Regions from separate parts of the Homo sapiens genome. Here region 1 is linked to region 2. A link means that fine-mapping ties the variant in region 2 to the expression of a gene that starts in the linked region. Tissue or cell type: whole blood. Region 2 holds a variant in brackets; the other region holds the start of a gene. All regions are shown on one strand. Distances are between the middles of the regions.

The links. PIP is the estimated chance that this variant, and not a neighbour inherited with it, causes the effect.
Region 1: LCN10 starts here. The variant in region 2 is fine-mapped to the expression of LCN10 in whole blood (TOPMed, PIP above 0.99).

Annotation. Positions count from the first base shown.
Region 1 is chr9:136,738,985-136,746,984 of GRCh38, reverse strand. It overlaps LCN10 (lipocalin 10), which reads left to right and starts at 4,045. Exons shown (of 6, transcript NM_001001712.3): 1 at 4,045-4,198; 2 at 4,965-5,104; 3 at 5,624-5,733; 4 at 6,042-6,149; 5 at 6,937-7,035; 6 at 7,432-8,000. The coding sequence starts at 4,082. The coding sequence ends at 7,460. It overlaps LCN6 (lipocalin 6), which reads left to right. Exons shown (of 7, transcript NM_198946.3): 3 at 1,071-1,141; 4 at 1,705-1,815; 5 at 2,244-2,345; 6 at 2,621-2,646; 7 at 2,843-2,968. The coding sequence ends at 2,323. It overlaps MIR6722 (microRNA 6722), which reads left to right and starts at 15; the gene lies at 15-92. LOC100128593 (a long non-coding RNA gene) reads right to left here and starts at 824. Exons shown (of 3, transcript NR_033913.1): 1 at 784-824. RefSeq lists a silencer at 4,541-4,640.
Region 2 is chr9:136,761,520-136,769,519 of GRCh38, reverse strand. It overlaps LCN15 (lipocalin 15), which reads left to right and starts at 5,002. Exons shown (of 7, transcript NM_203347.2): 1 at 5,002-5,127; 2 at 5,511-5,650; 3 at 5,737-5,807; 4 at 6,053-6,163; 5 at 7,231-7,332; 6 at 7,667-7,733. The coding sequence starts at 5,032. The coding sequence ends at 7,701. LOC107987143 (a long non-coding RNA gene) reads left to right here. Exons shown (of 3, transcript XR_001746981.2): 2 at 1,371-1,759; 3 at 1,846-3,177. RefSeq lists enhancers at 3,247-3,296, 3,307-3,356, 5,632-6,279. The variant G/A (reference allele first, on the strand shown) is at 4,299.

The DNA.
Region 1 (8,000 bases), 23 kb after region 2:
CAGACTGGCCTTGTGGCCTCAGGCAGGCGCACCCGACCACATGCATGGCTGGTGGCGGCGTGCAGGGGTCGGGTGGGCCAGGCTGTGGGGCGGCCGTGCTACACAGGGGACACCTACAGGGCAGCCGGGCTGTGGGGGTAGCCGTGCTGGGGCAGGAGTCGGTGCCCGCCTCCCTTCACAGAAGAGTGGCCTGCTGGGTGGCGTGGTGGGTGTCTACCCCCTGGCAGGCTGGCGACAGAGCCCAGGCCTGAACCACTGAGCCAGGTACGGGGCCCAGAGAGAAGAACCTGCCCTCCTCACCAGCGTGCCTTCCCCCTGCACCTGCGCCTGCAGGGTATGGGCAGGGGCCCCACTGCACCCCCCGGGCCAGGCCTGGCCTCAGGGCGAGCTGGGACCAAGGGGCTCCAGGCTGAGGTGGCAGCTCCCACGTGGCTTTCCTAGTTCTTCTTGCTGTTCCTCCCGCATGGACTCAGCCTCAGTTTCCTTCCTTGGCAAACACCATTGCACCTTTGCTGGGTTTTGCTCACTCTGGGGACTGACCACTTAGGGAGCGCCGGCCCCTTCCCCCGAGTCGCAGGCAAACCCCCACCCCGCCCCATCCTTCCCCTGAGTCGCAGGCGAACCCCCACCCCACCCCATCCTTCCCCTGAGTCACGGGCGAACCCCCACCCCGCCCCATCCTTCCCCTGAGTTGCGGGCGAACCCCCACCCCGCCCCATCCTTCCCCTGAGTCACGGGCGAACCCCCACCCCACCCCATCTTTCCCCCGAGTCGCGGGCGAACCTCCCGTCTGTCGAGTCTCCTGTTGTGTCCTCAGCAGCATTCAGCGTTCCTGGTGGAGATCTGGCACTGAGGATCTCTCAGGAAGTGAATGGGAGTGTCCGCCCCTCTCAGGACTCCCACGCCGTCCACTCTCCGAGAACAGGTTTCCGGGCATCGGGGCATCTGGCAGAAGATGGAAGCTCTGGCCTCACTGCTGGCTGGCCTGGCCTGGACTCCTGAGCTCCGTCTCCTCTCACCGGGCCCCGGGGTCTTGACCCTGAGTGGGTGACAGGCCCCTTCTTTTCCAGGCTGGGAGGGTGTGACCAGAGTGTCATGGACCTGATAAAGCGAAACTCCGGATGGGTGTTTGAGAATCCCTGTGAGTCTGACGGCCACGGCCTCACCCAGGCCGTTCTTCCCTGCAGCATCCCCAGGCCCCCTGCGGGCAGGGACGGAGGGCTGACTCCGCTCCCGAGAGCCAGGAGGCTACAGGTTCTGGTCTTGGGATTGCTGCCCATCCTGAGGGTGAAGAGAAGCCCCTGGACAGAGGATTGGAACCTTGTTCCCAGCAGGCTCAGACACCAGTGAGGTCCAGCCAAGGTCCCCATAGGTGCAGAGGGCGAGGGGCCTGTTTAGTGGCTGTCTACAGGTACAGGGCTGGGCTGGTGTGACCCAGCCGCTCCTCGTTCACACCTGGGACAGGCTGGGGCAGTGCTTGTCTGTCTGTCCGTCAGTGTCTGAAAGCCCCTTGATGCTGGCACCAGGTGGGGTCGGGGGTGGGGGACAAAGCTTGGGGGCTCTGGGTGTGCTTGGAGGGGTCTCCTGGGGAGGGGGGCTCTCACTTGAATTGGCCCCTCTGTCCCTGTGGCCAGCATCAGCTCAGCGGCCCCTGGATGGATACAGCAGCTGCCCTCCCCTGAGGCGGGGGGTTTTGTTTCCTAGCAATAGGCGTGCTGGAGCTCTGGGTGCTGGCCACCAACTTCAGAGACTATGCCATCATCTTCACTCAGCTGGAGTTCGGGGACGAGCCCTTCAACACCGTGGAGCTGTACAGTAAGTGTGCTGTGCGGGGCCCACGTAGGGAGCTGTGTGGTGCGTGGGCCACTCGGGGCCCACGTTGGGAGCTGTGTGGTGCGTGGGCCGCTTGGGGGCCGCGTGGGGAGCTGTGTGGTGAGTGGGCCGCTCGGGGGCCATGTGGGGAGCTGTGTGGTGAGTGGGCCGCTTGGGGCCACATGGGGAGCTGTGTGGTGAGTGGGCCGCTCGGGGGCCATGTGGGGAGCTGTGTGGTGGGTGGGCCGCACAGGACCACATGCAGGCCAAGTTCCCCCACCTTGAGGCTCGCTGCACTGGAGGTGGCTTTGGAAGGACCGGGGCCAGCATCCCAGGGCAGGTGGCCTCCTTCCTGACCCTTCCCAGCCCCTCCCCGGCCCCTCCCCAGCTCTCAGAGGTTGCTTCCCCCTGCACTGCCCTGGTGCCCCCAGGTCTGACGGAGACAGCCAGCCAGGAGGCCATGGGGCTCTTCACCAAGTGGAGCAGGAGCCTGGGCTTCCTGTCACAGTAGCAGGCCCAGCTGCAGAAGGACCGTGAGTGTCCACCGGAGCAGCCTCGGGGGAGGCTTGGGGCAAGTTCTGGAGCCCACAGGGCGTGATGGGGTGACAGAGACCCTGGGGTTGATTCTGGCTTCTGCCTGACTCAGTCGCCCTGAAGGAGTCAGGCAGGCTGAGGGGGTCTTCACCTGCCCCTGCCCAAAGTCAGGCCTGGGGGTCTTGTCCCCACGGCAGGCGAGTCTTGTGGGTGGGGCCCTGGGGTGCTGGGGGGCTCAGTCCTTTTTCACAGCCAGTCTTGCCTCCCCTTCTAGTCACCTGTGCTCACAAGATCCTTCTGGTAAGCCGCCATCCTGAGCCTCACCCTGGGCTCTCTTGGGGGAAGGGGGTGGGGGAGGCCACCCTACGCACAGTGGGTGGGAGGACCCTCTGCCCAAGCCCACGGGGTTCATGGCTCCACTGTCTCTAAGGCAGCTGAGGGTGTGGAGGAGCCTCCATGGTGGGCTGGGCCCCCTCACACTCCTCTTGGTTTTCAGTGAGTGCTGCGTCCCCAGTAGGGATGGCGCCCACAGGGTCCTGTGACCTCGGCCAGTGTCCACCCACCTCGCTCAGCGGCTCCCGGGGCCCAGCACCAGCTCAGAATAAAGCGATTCCACAGCAAACCAAGGATGCTTTTGACTGGGGGCCAGCCGGGGAATTGCGGGGAGGATGGCGGGGGTCGTCACCAAGGGCCAAGCCACAGAACCATAGAGCCAGCTGCAAAGAAGACGCGTGCCCAACCCAGTCCCTTGCCAGAGCCCCTCTGGGTCTTCAGACACCCAAACTCAGGCCCGGGCTCAGAGGCGGGGGCTGGTCAGAGGACACAGCCTGGGAGGAAGCCAGCAGTGAGCTCCACCAGGACCGCAGCTGGGGTGCCAGAGGCTCCAAGGACTGCCCAGGACAAGAGAGAGGTGGCTGGTGGGGCTCAGAGCAGCCCCTGACTCCCCAGGCTCAGGCTTCTCTGGGCTGGGGTTGTGTCTCTTGCCTGGGCAGGGGCAGGGACCCCAGACACCTGAGCCTGCAGGTCCTCCTGTGTTCTGATGGGTGTGGGGGGCTGCGCTGCCTGCCGTCCTGGGAGAAGCACAGGCCATGGGGGTCTCGGGGCTGGATGGGGGGCTGGGGACTGTGTGAGGCTCATGCTGGAGTGAGGCGAGGTGCACACAGATGCCTTGACCTGCAAGGCTGGGCATGCACACGCATGCACATGTGAGCACACACCCACACATGCACACACACACATTCATGGGCACGGGCACACAGCCCCGGCCCGCCCTTCGGCACCTGCTCAGGTGCTTGGTGCCAGGCCCTCAAGAAGGTGGTGGGGGCTGTGTGTGTGGCTGCCGCGCAGAGCTCACCATGTCCACATCTGCCCCAGAAGGGCCACGACCAGCCCTTTGCCTGTCACCTGGGAGGTCTAGGATGAGGGCCAGGGCTTAATGAGTCTCAGGGGCACACACAGTGACCCCAGGCCGGGCACTGAGGGCAGGAGGGTCCTGGGGCCTCAGAGGGGCCTCTGTCTGCCAGGGCAGCCCAGGCCAGCAGTGACCACCAGGTGGGGCAGTGCCGGCTTCCCTGGAGTGTCTGGGGGTGGTCCCTGGGCGGGGAGAGGGTAGCAGAGCCCAAGGCCACACCTGTTGCCTCCCTCCGCTCCCTCCCCTCCCTCCTCTCCCGACACAGGCTGGCGGCTCCAGAGAGGTTTAAACACTGGCCTTGGCGGCTGAGGGAGGAGGGTGAAGATGAGGCAGGGGCTGCTGGTGCTGGCGCTGGTGCTGGTGCTGGTGCTAGTGCTGGCTGCAGGGTCCCAGGTGCAGGAGTGGTACCCCAGGGAGTCCCACGCCCTCAACTGGAACAAGGTGAGCCATGTGCCACTGGTCCCTGAGCCGGGCGCCGGCTCTGGAGCTGGAGCAGGCTCCTGCACAGTCTCCCGGCAGCCGCCCAGGAGCAGGGCTACCAGCAGTTCCAGGCACGGGCGCTGCCCACCTGGCCTCTCCCACTGCAGCCTCCAGCACAGGGGCCCCGCAAGTTGCAGGGCAAAGGCAGGGAGCCTCGAGGGGGTTCGGGGGCCCAGGGGGGTCAGGGAGGGCCAGGGTGGAGGGGCCCAGAGAGCTGTGGCCGAGGAGGTCGGGAGACGCCCAGAGTGCAGAGTGGGTGTGGAGCAAGCGGGGCATATTCTGTAGCGGGAGGGCCCGGGCACCTGCTGAGTGAGCCGTGGGAGCAGCACTCATTGGCACGGCGGTGCCCAGGGCGCTAGGGTTGGCAGCAGGCAGAGTTGGGGGCCGGGGGCCGGCAGGAAGGGAAGTGGCCGAGCAGTACCCAGCCCCCAGGAGGCCATGTGGGAAGGAGCCGGGGCCTCTGAGGTAGGGGGCCTCCCACCTGCTGGCGCCCACAGCCCAGCCCTTTGCTGCCTGGGGTCCCTGACCAGCCGGGCACCTGCTTCTCTGCAGCCCTGCTCCAGTGGCCAGGGCTTGAGTGGCCGGGACCGAGGCGGCACCTGGGCGGAGCTGGGACTCCGGCTCACAGAAGGGTCATTTGTCTCCTGGGTTCTCTAGCTGGGAACCTCGGGGGTGGGGACAGCCCCCGGTGGCAGCTCCTGTCCCCGCCCACACATCCGCTGCGCAGTTTTCAGGGTTCTGGTACATTCTGGCCACTGCCACTGATGCCCAGGGATTCTTGCCGGCCAGGGACAAGAGGAAGCTGGGGGCGTCCGTGGTAAAGGTGAACAAAGTGGGCCAGCTCCGCGTGCTCCTCGCCTTCAGACGGTGAGTGGGCAGCGCCCCCCAGGCAAGGGTCTCCCCTTCCAGGAGGAGGGAGCTGCCTCGGGGCTGGAAAGGAGTCTGGGAGGAGCCTGTCTGTCTGGAAGTTCCACAAGAACCGTCCCCCCACTTCCTCCCCCTAAACTCAGAGGAAGCCACCTGCAGCCCCTGGGACCCCACATGGGTGGGTGTTGGGAGGAAGCTGCCTGCAGACCTTGGGACCCCACATGGGTAGGTGTTGGGAGGAAGCCGCTTGCAGCTCCTGGGCCCCACACGGGTGGGTGTTGGGAGTTTCTCTCGTGCCGTGGGACAGGCCCCAGTCCGAATTGGAAAATCCTCAAACCACAGAGCCTCAGATTGACACGAGTTGGATAGTGAAGCAAAAAACTGGGGACCTGGGGCCCCAACCTTCCCGGGTCCCACGGGAGCAGGGGCGGGACCGAGACGTGTGGGTGGGGCTCGGTGGCTGGCAGGCGGGAGGAGGGGTTCCCTGGTCTGCAGCCTGAGCCCCCGCCTTGGCCCCAGGTTGAAGGGGTGCCAGTCCCAGGAGGTGATCCTGAGGAAAGACGGGAAGAAGCCGGTGTTTGGGAACGCCTGTGCATACGCGGCGGGCCCGAGGGAAGGACAGGAGGGAGGTGTGCTTGGGCTCTGGGCCCTGGAGGAGCTGCGTGATATGCCTCTGACCCCCCTGTGCCTTGAGCAGGCCCCTTGTCCCCGAGAGCACGTGGCAGGCAGGCGTCAGGCTGGCTGTGTTCCCAGAGCCCACACGTCATGTGCTGGGCGGCCTGGCCCGGGAGGGGAGGCCCCGGGAGGGCACTCAGTCCCTCTGGACACCTGCACCTGGGTGGGGGCTCTGAGGCCTCGGGCACCAGGGGTCAGGGCTGTGGGCGGGCACAGCCACGCCATCCGGGAACCAGCGGGCATCTCTGGGCATCTCTTTCAGTGAAAGGGGTGAAGGCCTTCCACGTGCTGTCCACTGACTACAGCTACGGCTTGGTCTACCTCCGCCTGGGGCGTGCAACCCAAAACTACAAGAACCTGCTGCTCTTCCGTGAGCAGGCACAGCGGATGGCAGAGGATGGTGGAGGGGGTGCAGAGGGAGGCATAGAGGGGCGCTGGGCACAGGGGGCCGGGCAGGAGGTGAGGCGGGCAGGGAGAGTGGGGGTTGGGGCGGTGGTCAGGGCAGGGGCAATGGAAGCCGAGACCACAGCAGTCAGGTCCTGGAGGTCGCTGAAGCAAGGATAGGGGACGTCAGGAAGAGGCTGCAGAGAAAGGTGGGCCATCCAGGGGGAGCGGAGGCCACCAGGATGGTGGCGGGTGCAGGTGCAACGTTCTGGGTGAGGGACACAGTGGGGATGAGGAGGCGTGGGAGGGGTCCCAGGTAAGGGTCTGCCCGGGATGGAGGGGTGTGGAAGTGACCCAGTGTGGGTTAAGGGCCACAAACCCAATTCTAGACACCAACCACTTGGGGTACACGGAAAGGAGTGGCCCTCCCGGTTGGAACGGGTAGAGGGGAGGTGGGGTCCTGGGGTCTCAGTCGAGGCAGGGCACGCTCAGGGTGCAGCAAGCTGGGGCACAGCTGAGGGGCTGGCTGGAGGGGACTCTGCAGGCAGAGAGGGTTCCCCAGGTGACAGCGTGGTGACCCTGGCTTCCCGAGCCTGGCTGCCTCGTAAGTGGGGAGGGGCCCAGCGGCCGCTGTCCTCCCCTGGCCAACCCCTGCTTCACGCCTAAGCTCTGAGGACATTTCAGCAGCTCCTGGGGTAGGGATGGGGGTCAGGGTGCAGACCCTAAAATGGCCAGAGCTGGAGTCTCTGATGTGATCCTGATCTCAACCTCAGATAGGCAGAATGTTTCGAGCTTCCAGAGTCTGAAGGAATTCATGGACGCTTGTGACATTCTGGGGCTCTCCAAGGCCGCCGTCATCCTCCCGAAAGACGGTAAGCTGTGCCCTCAGCCCTTTGCCCTCCTGGCCCTACCTGCCCGTCCCATTGGGGAGCTGATTCATTGGGGGAAGGAGAGATGAAAGGATCCATTTGAAAGGTGCCATTTGAAAGATCCGCCCAAACGTGCCTCCCACCTCCTGCCGCCCCTGAGAATCGGGGCTTGGCCTGGCAGGCCTGGCACCGACAGCGAGAGGCGTCCGGAGCAGATGCTGCATCCGACCAGGCGATGCCGTGGCTGTGGCTGCAGGATCGGGGGCTGCATGGCTGTGTTCTCGTGGTGCCCAAGACGAGCACGCATGGAACCAGGGAGCGGCCGGGGGAGACGTGTTCACGGCTCATGTGTCTCCTCCAAGCAGCCAGCCCACATGTGGCTGTTTTCCTCTCCCACAGCGTCCCGTACACACACCATCCTGCCATGAGAGCCAGCGTCCTCTGCTCTTCCCTTTCGACGCGTGGTCCTCCCAGACCCGAGGAGCGTTGTTCCAGATGTCAAGTGGAGACCACGGCTTGTTGAGAGGTGTTTGGTGACTCTAGGTCATTGACAGTGTGAAAATCAAGTGGCTCAAGGGATCCTTTATGATCACAGAAAGATGGGGGAAGGAGGATACAGGCTGACCGGGTGGCGAGATGTCAGCCAGGCCCCTTCCCCACTGTCTTCTGGAGCACACTGCAGGCTGCTGCTATTCCCTGTCTGCTGTGAAACAGACCACAGGCCGGCCCAACGCAGTCCTCGCCGTGTGCCTTGCCTCTGCCCTCCACGCCGCCGCCACCCTCCGCGTTCCTTTACATCCTGCACTTTCTCAGGAAGCCGTTCGCATATCCACCCAACATGGAGGAGCCCCCATGACGTGCCAGGCAGCGTGCTGGCCCCTGCGGCTGCGTTAGGGAACAGAATCGGCAAACGCAGTCCCAGAGTTGATGCCTGATCAGGAGAAGCCAACTTCAGCAGTGTGGTCACC
Region 2 (8,000 bases):
GTGGCGGGGTGGCGGGGGGGCAGTGCATGGGGGGTGTCGGGGTGTCGGGGGGGGCAGTGCATGGGGGGTGGCGGGGTGGCGGGGGGGAAGTGCATGGGGGGGTGGCGGGGTGGCGGGGGGGGCAGTGCATGGGGTGGTGGCGGGGGGCAGTGCATGGAGGGGTGGCGGGGTGGCGGGGGGGCAGTGCATGGGGGGGTGGCGGGGGGCAGTGCATGGAGGGGTGGCGGGGTGGCGGGGGGGCAGTGCATGGAGGGGTGGCGGGGTGGCGGGGGGGGCAGTGCATGGGGGGGTGGCGGGGGGGGCAGTGCATGGGGGGGTGGCAGGGTGGCGGGGGGGGGCCGTGCATGGGGGTTGGGGTGGGAGGGGACTGAGCTCTGAGAAAGGACCCCAGTTCACTATGTCAAAAACGAAAAAAAGGCAAGGCGCAGTGGCTCACGCCTGTAATCCCGGCACTTTGGGAGGCCAAGGAGGGCAGATCACCTGAGGTCAGGAGTTTGAGACCAGCCTGACCAATATGGTGAAATCCTGTCTCTACTAAAAATGCAAAAAAAATTAGACGGGCATGGTGGCTACTGTTATCCCAGCTACATGGGAGGCTGAGGCAGGAGAATCGCTTGAACCCGGGAGGTGGAGATTGCAGTGAGCTGAGATTGCACCACTGCACTCCAGCCTGAGTGACAGAGTGAGACCCCGTCTTAAAAAACAAAACAAGGCCAGGCACGGTGGCTCATGCCTGTAATCCCAGCACTCTGGGAGGCTGAGGCAGGTGGATCACAAGGTCAGGAGATCGAGACCACCCTGGCTAACATGGTGAAACCCTGTCTCTACTAAAAATACAAAGAATTATCCGAGCATGGTGGTGGACGCCTGTGGTCCCAGCTACTCCGGAGGCTGAGGTGGGAGAATGGCGTGAACCCAGGAGGTGGAGCTTGCAGTGAGCCGAGATTGCGCCACTGCAGTCCGCAGTCCCGCCTGGGGCGACAGAGCGAGACTCCGTCTCAAAAAAAAAAAAAAAAAAAAAAAAAAAAAAGAAAAAAAAGAAAAAAGAAAAAAAGAAAAGAAAACGAAGAAAAACCACAAATAAATAAAAGTTGAGGTATGATGTATGCACAGCTGCATTCGCCCCTTTGAGGGCACAGTTGTGTGAGTTTAGACAAATGCAAATGTTCATGGAACCACTGCAAGTGCGACACAGCAGCTCTGGTGCCCACAAAGCTTCCTCGAGGTCCCTTGCGGTCAATCACTGCCCGCACCTCAGCCCTCAGAGCCACTGGGAAGCCCCCTGCCCTGTGGGCTCACCTGTCCTAGAACGTCGTATAAAAGGAGTCGCAGATCGCAGCCTTTTCCACCTGGCTTCTGTCCCTCTGCAGGGTGCACCTGGGATTCAGCCACCTTCGTTCCTTTTACTGCTGAGTGTCCATCACGTGCTGCTCATGCAGAAGTGCTCAAGTTCGCTGTAAACGTAGTTTTCATTTCTCCCGGGTGGAGACCTCCATAAGTAGGTAGGTTGGTGGAATGTTTCACTGCATGAGAGTCTGCCAGGAAGTTTTGCAGTGTGGTCCCGTCTTGTTCTTCCCGCAGAGGGTGATAGCTCTGCTGACTCCCAGCCCTCACAGGCTCTAGGGATTGAGCCTGTTTCTGTGGAACGCCTTCCATGGTCTGCGAGGTGCACAGAGGGGTCTCAAAAAGCTTCCAGGTTGCATCTTCCCATGGACTGATGCTGAGCGTGTTCTCATCTCCCATCCGGATGTTTTCTTTGGTGGAGTATCTTTTCAGATCTCTTGCCTTTTTATTTTTATTTGTTTATATATATATTTTGAGACGGAATTTTGCTCTTTCACTTAGGTTGGAGTGCAACGGCGCGATCTTGGCTCACTGCAACCTCCCCCCACCCACCTCACTTTGGGTTCAAGCGATTCTCCTGCCTCAGCCTCCCGAGTAGCTGGGACTACAGGCGCCCGCCACCATGCCCGGCTAATTTTTGTATTTTGAGAAGAGATAGGGTTTCACCATGTTGGCCAGGCTGGTCTCGAACTCCTGACCTCAGGTGATCCACCCGCCTCGGCCTCCCAAAATGCGAGGATCACAGGCGTGAGATGCCACACCTGGCCTCTTTTTATTTTTAATGGAGTGGCTTGTTTTCTTATTACTCAGTCTTGGGAGTTCCTCATGGATGCTGGATTTCAGTCTCGTCTCAGGTGTATGCGTTTTGTAGATGTTTTCTGTAGGGACCAGCCCCACAGGGTTGGTGAGTTTCTCCCTGTGTGCTGAGATGAGAGGGCATAGAAATAAGGACACAAGAAAAAGACATAAAAGAAAAGACAGCTGGGCCTGGGGACCACTACCACCAAGACGTGGAGACCGGTAGTGGCCCCGAATGTCTGGCTGTGCTGATATTTATTGGATACAAAGCAAAAGGGACAGGGTAAAGAGTGTGAGTCATCTCCAATGATAGGTAAGGTGACGTGAGTCACGTGTCCACCGGATGGGGGGCCCTTCCCTGTTTGGCAGCCAAGGCGGAGAGAGAGAGAGAGAGACAGCTTACATCATTATTTCTGCATATCAGAGACTTTTAGTACTTTCACTAATTGACTACTGCTATCTAGAAGGCAGAGCCAGGTGTACAGGATGGAACATGAAGGCGGACTACGAGCGTGACCACTGAAGCACAGCATCACAGGGAGACGGTTAGGCCTCTGGATAACTGCGGGCAGGTCTGACTGATGTCAGGCCCTCCACAGGAGGTGGAGGAGTAGAGTCCTCTCTAAGCTCCCCCGGGGAAAGGGAGACTCCCTTTCCCTGTCTGCTAAGTAGCAGGTGTTTTCCCTTGACACTGACGCTACTGCTAGATCACGGTCCGCTTGGCAACAGGTGTCTTCCCAGACGCTGGCGTCACCACTAGACCAAGGAGCCCTCTGGTGGCCCTGTCAGGGCGTAACAGAAGGCTCGCACTCTTGTCTTCTGGTCACTTCTCACTATGTCCGCTCAGCTCCTATCTCTGTATGGCCTGGTTTTTCCTAGGTTATAATTGTAGAGCAAGGATTATTATAATATTGGAATAAAGAGTAATTGCTACAAGCTAATGATTAATAATATTCATATATAATCATGTCTATGATCTAGATCTAGTATAACTCTTGTTATTTTATATATTTTATTAAACTGGAACAGCTCGTGCCCTCGGTCTCTTGCTTCGGCATCTGGGTGGCTTGCTGACCACAGTTTTCCTGCTGTATCTAACTGCTGGCTTAGGTGAACCTGTCAGGGGCGTGGCTGGGAACTGGAACCTCCTGAAGACCAGTGGAGGCCACAAGCAGAAGCCCTCGGCTCCTTCCCTTCCCCGATGCTGGGGGCCAAGGGTCTTTCTCTGACCCTGTCCCCCTCTCACGTTACCAGTGGAGGGTGTCCAGGTTCTTGGCATTTTGAACAAAGAATTGGACAAAACACACAAACAAAGCAAGGAAAGAATGAAGCAACAAAAGCAGAAATTTATTGAAAATGAAAGCACTCTTTACAGGGTGGGAGCGGGCTGAGCAAGCAGCTCAAGGGCCCCGGTTACAGAATTTTCTAGTGTTTCAATATCCTCTAGCGGTTTACCATTGGTTACTTGGTGTATGCCCTATGTAAATGAAGAGGATGAAGTCAAAGTCATTTTCTCGGCTGAGCATACTGTCACGCCTGTAATCCCAGTACTTTGGGAGGCTGAGGTGGGTGTATCACCTGAGGTCGGGAGTTCAAGACCAGCCTGATGAACATGGAGAAACCCCGTCTCTACTAAAAATACAAAATTAGCTGGGTGTGGTGGCGGGTGCCTGTAATCCCAGATAGTCAGGAGGCTGAGGCAGGAAAATCGCTTAAACCCGGGAGGCAGAGGCTGCAGAGAGCCAAGGAGTGCACCACTGCACTCCAGCCTGGGCAACAAGAGCAAAACTCCATCTCAAAAAACAAACAAACAAAACGAAGTCATGTACTCGGTATGAGCCCTACGTAAACGGAGAGGATGGAGTGAAGGTACAAAGCCATTCACATTCCCGTCATCGTTAGTGTTTCCAGTTGATTTGGTTCTAGGACGCCCTTGGGCTCCCTGCGTCCAGGCCCTCTTCTCCTGCCTCACTCTCACTCCAGAGGACTGGCAGTGCTGGCCTCCCTGGCAGGACTCCCGCCCCTGACCAGAGGGGTCTGGGCGTGCTCCGAGGCCACCTGCTGCTCCTTGCCCAGTGTCCCTGGGTGCTCTGTGGGGACACAGAGAGGTCACTTGGGAGGTTCCTGCCTCTGCCAGACTGCGGCGCCTTCCTGGC[G/A]TCATTGCCCCCTGCACGCTTATACAACCAGTGATAAGGCGGTATCCAATGCCGTAATCCTCCCCAGGGCCAGCCCAGCCCTGTCCGGTCCCGTCCGGTCCCTGGCCTGCTTGCTGGAAGCCCAGCTGGGGGCTGCATCGGGGGTGGTGGGGGTCTGGAGTGAGGGGTGCCCAGGCCTCTCTCACAGTGTGGGGGCACAAGCTCTGCCCTGGACACTCTGCCAGTGTGACCCTACCCCCCATGTTGGGGGTGAGAGAAGGGGGCTTTCTGGGTGGCCAGATCCCAGGAGAGGGGGCCTAGCCAGACCAACCCCAGCCCAGCTCTCTGCAGCTGTACCCCAAAGGCCCTGGCCCAGCCCAGCCAGACAGAGTGTGGACAGAGGGGCTTGGGTGCGAGTCCAGGCAAGGCAGGACAAGTCTCTGCTGTGGCTTGGCAGTGGCCCCGTGACTGGTGACATAGTCTGGCAGGCCTAGGGGACAAATCCTCAGCCCGGGTGCATCAGGCCAGAGCCTGGCTGTCTGGAGCCCTCCAGGAAATGACCCCCTGGGCTGGGGGACATCCGAGTGATTGTGCCAAACAATGGACAAGGGGGCCGGAGTCTCAGAGCCGAAGTGCCTTCCGCTTCCATCTGCTCCGCCCAGGAGCAGGTGCACCCAGGTGGTGGCCTGGGCTATAAAGCTGGCCCCCTGGGGCTTGGGGACTCAGCACCAGGGGCTGGAGGGCAGGGGAGGGGATGATGTCATTCCTGCTCGGCGCAATCCTGACCCTGCTCTGGGCGCCCACGGCTCAGGCTGAGGTTCTGCTGCAGCCTGACTTCAATGCTGAAAAGGTACCAGGGGCCTCTGCTGTCCTGTGGTGGGTGGGAGCTGGGCCCCTGCCAGAGACAACGTGATAATTGTGACAACTGCCTTTCCTGGGGCGCTTGCTCTGTGCCCGGCCAGGCACGTGCTATAGACCCACTCTGCGCTTAATCCTAAACCAACCTGTGAATGGATCATTACTGCACCCACTTCACAGCTGGGAACTGAGGCTCACAGTTGCACTGTGACCTACCCAAGATGAGTTCCTGTCCACCTGGGCTCAGCTCACACCCAAGACATGGCCACTCCGAGACCCCTTGCTGTGTGACTTCTGAGTTGTCCCCTGGGTCCCTGGGCAAGGAGGGCCCTGCTGCTGGCTGTCCTGGCCTGCGGGTGACTAAGCCCCCGGCAGTTCTCAGGCCTCTGGTACGTGGTCTCCATGGCATCTGACTGCAGGGTCTTCCTGGGCAAGAAGGACCACCTGTCCATGTCCACCAGGGCCATCAGGCCCACAGAGGAGGGCGGCCTCCACGTCCACATGGAGTTCCCGGGGTGAGTTACTTGGGCTGGGCTGCCTGGGCTGGGCTGGGGAGCTGAGGTAGCTGGGTGCCATGAGTGAGCCGGCTGTGCACCCCCAGGGCGGACGGCTGTAACCAGGTGGATGCCGAGTACCTGAAGGTGGGCTCCGAGGGACACTTCAGAGTCCCGGGTAGGTCCTGCCTCCTCTGCCTTCAGGGGTGCTGGATGCCGCTTCTCTGGGGGTGACGTGGGGCTGACTTTCCACCCGGGCCCAAGCTGTCCATCCCAGTCTCCAGCCCCCTGCCCGCCCTCCCCGCCCCTCCTCTGTCTTCGGGGAACAGGCTCACAGCCCAGCAGCAGGGGCAGGCATGGGTGGGGTCGGTGCCCGGGCCCATCCACTTCTCCAGCCTGAAAAGGCCGCCTGCCTCTCCGCAGCCTTGGGCTACCTGGACGTGCGCATCGTGGACACAGACTACAGCTCCTTCGCCGTCCTTTACATCTACAAGGAGCTGGAGGGGGCCCTCAGCACCATGGTGCAGCTCTACAGTGAGTGCCTGTCCCACCTCCCCGCACTGGCCCCTCCCCAACTTCCCACAGGCCCCGCCCCCCGTTCTGCCTACCCCCGCCCCGCCCGCCTGCCGCCCCGCGCCTCCTCACAGGCCCCGCCCTCACCCCTCCGCCCCCCGCCTTTTAGGCCGAGTTTAGGCTCCGCCTCCTCATCCCCGGGCCCGCCCCTTCTGGTGCTGCCCCATGCCCTCTCCTGCTGTGACCCTTCGCACACACTCCTGGCCTGGCCAGGACCGGGTGGGGTGGGAGCTGGGCCCGCCGTGCTTTGGATGTGGAGGAGGTTGGCTTGGGGGAGGGTCCCGCGGTGCATGCTCCTCTCTGGCCTCCTGAGAGTGGTGCCCCGCCCTTCCCTGCCTGGCCTCGCTGCCTGAGTTCTGGGGCTGGGGCTGAGGTTCTTTTTTTTTTTTTTTTTTAATATGGAGTCTCACTCTGTCGCCCAGGCTGGAGTGCAGTGGCGCGATCTCGGCTCACTGCAACCTCCGACTCCCCAGTTCAAGCAATTCTCCTGCCTCAGCCCCCCGATAAGCTGGGACTACAGGCGCCCATCACCATGCCCGTATTTGTATTTGTAAAAATATAAATAATTTTTTGTATTTTTAGTAGAGACGGGGTTTCACCGTGTTAGCCAGGATGGTCTCGATCTCCTGACCTCGTGATCCGTCCGCCTCGGCCTCCCAAAGTGCTGGGATTCCAGGCGTGAGCCACCGCGCCGGCTGGGGCTCAGGTTCTTTAACTCCTGGGGACTCCCCGATTGGAGCCGACAGAGTGAGGCTGGAGGCTTCCGGGCTGCAGGGAAAGAGGCTCAAGGGGTAGTGGGGCCCAGGAGGACAGCCAGACCACCCCAACCTCCCAGACATCTTGGTGTGAATTGGGGAAGGGGGCCCCAAGTTTCCTTCAGCCAGGCAGGAGCTTTATGCCGCGCACAACCTGCCCAACCCAGGGTGGCGGCCTTGCTGTCAGCCCTCAGGCTGGTGGAGTGAGGCCAGGAGACCCCGTGCTGCACTCCTGTGAGCTGCTGAGTTCACAGTGACCTCTGCTCTGCCCAGGCCGGACCCAGGATGTGAGTCCCCAGGCTCTGAAGTCCTTCCAGGACTTCTACCCGACCCTGGGGCTCCCCAAGGACATGATGGTCATGCTGCCCCAGTCAGGTACCCTGGCAAGCCCCGCCCACCCCATGCCCCCCAGCCTCTCCCTCCCTTCCCATGAGCCCACCCTTCCTTCCCCTCACAGCACAGGCAGTGTGCGGGCAGCAGGTGGTCTTCTCTTCCAGGGGTGGGCTGGCAGCCCCTGCAGCCCCTACCCCACCTCCCCCAGAACAGACTACGGGAGAGGCTTTGGGCAGCGCTGGGAGGGAAGCTCTGGGCTCCACTCTCTGGGGATGGTGGAGCTGTCCAGTGGCCCTTGGCACCCAGGGGTTGGGGGCTGCGGGAAGCGAGGGCGGTCCTGGCCGTCAGCATCTCACGGATGTCTTCCTCCCCACAGATGCATGCAACCCTGAGAGCAAGGAGGCGCCCTGACACCTCCGGAGCCCCACCCCCGCCCTTCCCAGGTGGGTTCTCCAGGCCCTGCAGGGGATGCCCTGGTTGCCTCTCCCCTCCCTATCGCAGCTTGACATCTGGTTCTGTCTGCCCCATGCCTGCCCCGCTGTTCTGCCTGGCGACCCCATGCTTCAGGCCTCAGCTTAGACATTACCTCTTCCAGGAAGCCTCCCTTGATTTCCTAAGGTACCCATCACAGAGTACCACAAATGGGGCGACTTAAAACAGCAGAAGTTTGGCCGGGTGCAGTGGCTCATGCCTATCATCCCAGCACTTTG